Regions from separate parts of the Homo sapiens genome. Here region 2 is linked to region 1. The links come from fine-mapping of genetic effects on gene expression. A gene starts in region 1. The other region holds a variant in brackets. All regions are shown on one strand. Distances are from middle to middle.

Region 1 (2,793 bases):
AACACTGAACTAGAATTTTGGGTGGAACGAAGTAGAAGCTTTACTTTTTATTTAACAGTAGCCTGAAGACCTCCTGCAGAATAATGGAAAGGATAAAGACCTGGGAGCCAGGATACTAAGGTTCTGGCATTAGCTCTGCCCCCCAGTTGTCTGTTTGACCTCGACCAGAGGGAAACAGTTTTACTACCTCTCACAATACTGTGCAGTCTGGATTGGTATCTCCATGTAATCAATAAGGAAATAGGGGCTCCAGGAGTTTACCCAAGGCCGGGCAGCAGATCAGTGGCCAGACCAAGCTTCAGCTGCACGTCTGCCCGACTCTGAAGAGCACGTTGCCTTCACAAGCCATCAAATCCCTTCGTGCTTTGGCCTCTTCATCTACCGCTTGAAGGGTCTGTACCAAGTGGTCATGGTTCCTTCCAGATACAGCAAACCGTGATTCTAAGGTTTCACTGATCCCTTAAAATCCAGTTTTAGTGCTCACAAACCCCATGGTGATAACAAAAGAGCCTTTAAAAAGGATTTATCCACCTATAAAAACCATTAGATTTTATTTGGGGCTGTGGGCAAAGAACACCAAAGCAAACGTGTTGGAACATCAAACCTCCTTTAAAATTTAGGGCAGCAGGGACAGAGGAGAAAATCTGCACAGGGCAAGGAGGGACAACTTACAGATTCCATGGCTGGAACCAGACTGCGGGACACTATTTATCTGCCATTGGCTTCCTGGGGGATAATTGCCTCCTGACAATTGTTTAGACTTGATAAATACATGAAATGGGACCGCCAACAGTTTATCTGGCTACCAGTTCAGATCCGGACAGAACCAGATGAAGAAGTCAGGCATATTTGCAATAACCTCAAAGATAAAACCTTCCTATCAGAGGCAGCTTATCTCCTCCTCTGGGTCATGCTGCCTAGTAACTGCCACCTCCAAAAGAAGGAAGGGGAGAGCACTTCTAGCAGGGGGTTCACAGTGGGCCTTGCTTGCCTTGAACTCCCCTTCCTGCCCACACGACAGGCCACCTGTCTGGCAGCAAGGGAGTGGTACTGTGCCCTGATCTGGAAGGCTTAGGAAAGATGTTGGCAAGGAAAGTGGAAGTAATGAGCAACTAGATCCCAAAGCCAAGGTCACCTAACTCTGAGATGAATGCGTTCCTTGTGGGCTCTTCCTCTGTTTCACATGGACAAGCTAAAGGAACTTCAGGCCTCCCCAGCAAAGATAACACCATGAATCGCAGCTCACAGGAGCTGGGACCCTGCTGGGCTACATACTCACCCCATGACCAAAGGCAAGTGGGACCTCTGGGCCTCAGTTTCCTCACCTCTCAGGGGTTTGAGCTAAATAATCCCTAAGATCCTACTGAGCCATTTTATGGACTGGAATCAAACCAGCCAGACCTCTTTATGGTTTAAAAGAGGCCAGAGGTTTCATCGAAGAACCATCTCCCTCCCTTACATTTTTCCTCAGCCCGCTTGCTTTTCTCTTCTCCCTCCCCGACACCTCTCATTTGCCGGCCACAAACCTCCATCCTCCAACTCCTTTCCAACGTCAGTAGCTGGCTCCACCAGGCTGGCTAAGGAGCGAGGAGACCATCACCTCAGAAAGCAGCCCCGCTGGGAGGTCCACGGAGCAGTTCGCCGAGCTGTGCACAGGCCCTTTATTTTCCATCTGTCAAGAAAGGAAGCTGCCTGTTGCTTATTTCCTCCTCCCACTCTTCTCCCTTCCCGCCAGCAGACTCTTCCACTTTCAAAATATTCTGATGGGGGATCACAGGAGTTTTCCTCAAACAAGATCACTTGGGGTCAACTACTGAGCAACTCCCAGCCTCAGCCCCACCCATTCCCTCACCCTCCAGCTTGAGCAATAGCTCCAGTTAGTAAAGCAGTTGGATCAACAGGACAACAACCAAAAGTGACCTTCTACGTCCTAAAGCCCTTGCCTGACACCACCTCTTTTTTTTTTTAAATTATTCAGGGGCCTTTTGGGGACCCCCAGTTGAGCTGTATTCTGCAGAAAGAACTTCCAAACGAAAGGAATAAGGCATTGTTTTACCAAGAGCCTTTTCTCCCTCAAGAAACACAATGTAAACTAGGAAACTTGCACTTTCTTTTACCTTTGGGTAGATGAGCAGAAGGGAAGAGTTACTACCCAGGGTGAGGTCATTCCTCCATGGTGGTAGAATATCTGGTTCTTTCAGTTTCCCCATGGTGCTGGCCTCACAATAGGTGTTCATGAGGTGCAGGCTAATTGGGTGAGTGGATGCAGTGCTCTGATGGATTTATTCAGTGTACAAGATTGCAAAGCCATGTGCCAGCAAAGGCTTAACCACCCCACCCTACCCTTCAGACCAGCCCCATAGCTTTCCATGTCCCTGTCTGCCCAGCCTCAGGCCAAAGCAAAGGCAGGGATCTGAGCTGTACCCACTGTGAATGCCCATCTCCTGACCCCTGTGCTAGTGTCTTGTCCCTGCATGCCTCGGCTGTCTTCTCTCTGGACTATGATTCATGGCAGATATTAAAAAGGAAACAGCATCCTTCAATTCTTTCTACCATTTCTCTTATCTTTAAAGGGTTCTTATTAAGCAGTATCTTCAAACTTATTTATGTGATGTCATGCTAGGAAGCAGCGTTGTCAATGTGCCACTTTCCATGAGCACTGAATTCAGTAAAAATAAAAGCCAAATAAATGATATATTGTCTCCATGCAGAATCTTCTCTAGTCATGACTAGCTATCCAGATAGTAGGGAATCCCTAAAGATAATCAGATAATGGTGACTTTTGCTTACTGA
Region 2 (2,793 bases), 91 kb before region 1:
TAAGTAAAAGAAGCCAGTCACAAAAACCACATACTGTATGGTTTCTTTTACATGAAATGTCTAGCATAGACAAATCCAGAGAAACTGAAATAAGTGGTTGCTGGGAGGGATAGGGGAAAGGAGGAATGGAGAGTGACTATTAATGGGTATGAGTTTCTTATGGGGGTGATGAAAATATTCTGGAATTAGATAGTGGCAATTGTTGCATGACTCTAAATATACTAAAAAATCACTGACTGAAATCACTTTAAAAGGGTGAAATGTTATATAGTATGTAAATTATATCTTGAAGAAGCTGTTATGAACAACAAAACCCCCAAATCCTAATAAGGTAGGTTTCATTTTCCCTGTTTGGTAGACAACGAACTGAGATTCAAAGTGGGTAAGAAACTTTCTTAAGGTCAAAGAGCAAGGCAATAGGAGCTACTATTGAAACCTACATGCATCTCATTTCCACATCTACGCCCTTCATTAAACTGCTTCCAAAGCTCTGATAACAACAACAACAACAACAAAAAATCCTTCTCAAAACAAGAAAGAGGTTCCAGCCACATTTGGTTTAGATCTGAGGTCACTTAATTCAAGCCTCATTTTCTCAAGTCCTTTACCGCCAGCTTGATCCTAGGCCCCGGGCAGATGGGTGTGTGGTGAGACACATGGGAAGCCTATGAAAGGTCATAAACTTATGTCAGTCTGGCCACTGACCCAGACTGTGGCCTACTGGCTCTGATGGAGAAGTCTATCCCAAAAATCAATAGTAATGGCAGTGGCTCAATTCAATTGCTCACGAATCCCCATCCATCATTAGGACAGCAGAATGGCAATGCTGGCCTTGCTAGGACCTAGTCTTTCACATTTACAGGCTTCATGCAAGTAGATGGCCCTTTCACCCTTAATGATTCCCTATGTCAGAGCACTGACACGTCTCCTAAAGCAATACTCAATATTTACTCCTATTATTATACATTGTATTTACTATGACCTGTATATCATAATTATCCACTGACCTGTCTTCTTCTACTCCCTCTTCAGTGAGATTCTTAAAGAAAGGACTGTGTTTCATTCATTTAAAAATTTTCCACACCATAGAAACTTCCCATCACGTATTAACAAAAGTTCTAGTACCATTTCCTATGTGTATACTGTATACTTGCTGAGTGTCAGGCTCTAGCCTAAAGTTTTATGACAGTGATCATATTTGATTCTCCCAACAACTCTATGAGGTAGAGACTATCACAATCCTGATTTTACAGCTAGTAAATGGCAGCCCA[A/G]TAAATCTCCTTAAACTTCTGTGAACCGTATTCTTGGTCAGTATAAACGCTATTCTTTCTGGGTCACTCCATAAAGACATGGGATATGTTTTCATTGATTCAGATCTTGCTGTATATGTACACCCTTAGCAAACATAGATGCTGGGCAGGGTGGTACCGACTGGGACATGACAGGCAGACAGCCCTGTCTTGGATCTGATCATAAACATCACGCCAGGGGTCAGCTGCCTAAATTCCAATCTTTCCATTCAGAAGGCAAGTTTATACAATTGCATACTTGAGAATTACCTCCATTAGAATTTGTTACTACACTAACGCAAAGTGAGAAATGGTATTGTGTTTTTAAAGTCCGAGTAATTTTGTTGAATGCCTTTATTCCCATTTTGGAGAGAGATTGGAATGTTTTCCCACCATGTGGGGCTATTTTACTGACTAAGGGCTGTGGCACCCACAGTCTGATGGTTTGTAACAATTTTCTGGGGTTTAGGAAATCACCTTCAGTGACTAAGTCAAGCCATTAAAAAATGGGACTATTCCTCTATTCACAACTGGCTGAAGAATTTCAGGTGTTTTACTCACATCCCAAGCATTCATAATGTCAGTGTTTAAAACCAGCTTTTCCAGTCAAAACCCTCAGCCAGGACTTGAAAGGGGATCTCAAGTTCTCTCTTTGTGATGTCAGCCATTGCAGGATTCTCACACCTTTATCAACTCTCCACAGCACTCCTAAAGGCCCTTTTTAATGGGCCTTCTGCTTCAACTTCACACTCAGGGACAGAATTTAAGACATGGGTTCTCACTAGGTGTACCTGTGAACACTGAATAAGGCATGAAATATCCCTGTGGCCACCTTCTGCTGTCTTGGCCTAAAACTCCATCTTAGCTCATCGTTTGTGCCACGTGCAACGAGGTCACCCACACTTTGCTGTTGTTGCCTGTTCTCCCTTTACCTTACCACCGGAAAGTGGGGTTTTCTTGTTGTGGTGATGGTTTTTTTGGCAGGGGGGATCAGTTTTTGTGTCAGTTTTGGCTTGGGACATGTATTTGTTTTGCTTTCTTTCATATGGTAGAGGGAGGGCTATGAAATGGAGCTTCTGCTTTCTTTACTGATTCTCTCTTTTCTTGGACCCTGTCTCTCTTCCACTGTCTGGTGCTCCATCTTTCCTAACCAGCATCCTCATACTACCAGCTGGTTCTCTTACGCCTACACACACTGGCCAGGTAGACATGTGGGGAGAAGAAGCAAGAGAATATTTGAGCCAGTCAAGACCAGAGCAGGCTGGTAGTTAGTTTGGAGAAGCTGTAGCTGTTGAGGGTAACACAGATGCCAGCCAGAGGCTCCCCAGCTCTTTGTGGGTATGAAGAAAATTGACCAGAACTTACCTCCCACCCATTCTGTGGCCTTTGGAAACCCAAAGCTCTCCTCCAGATTGCTGCCACTTCCAAGGGACCTCTTCTCAAGGTTTTCAGCTCCAATTTCTGAACCAGCTACCTTTGTCCCACACATATCAATCCCAGTGTG

The links. PIP is the estimated chance that this variant, and not a neighbour inherited with it, causes the effect.
Region 2: its variant is the best candidate, but not a certain one, in a credible set for the expression of LINC01140 in nasal epithelium (TOPMed, PIP 0.82).

What each region holds. Positions count from the first base shown.
Region 1 is chr1:87,128,728-87,131,520 of GRCh38, reverse strand. It overlaps LINC01140 (long intergenic non-protein coding RNA 1140), which reads right to left and starts at 1,756. Exons shown (of 3, transcript NR_026989.1): 1 at 1,527-1,756.
Region 2 is chr1:87,220,206-87,222,998 of GRCh38, reverse strand. It overlaps LINC02801 (long intergenic non-protein coding RNA 2801), which reads right to left. Exons shown (of 4, transcript NR_167752.1): 2 at 2,655-2,793. Among named protein-coding and RNA genes, the nearest start is that of LINC02801, 8.9 kb to the right of the region's middle. The variant A/G (reference allele first, on the strand shown) is at 1,272.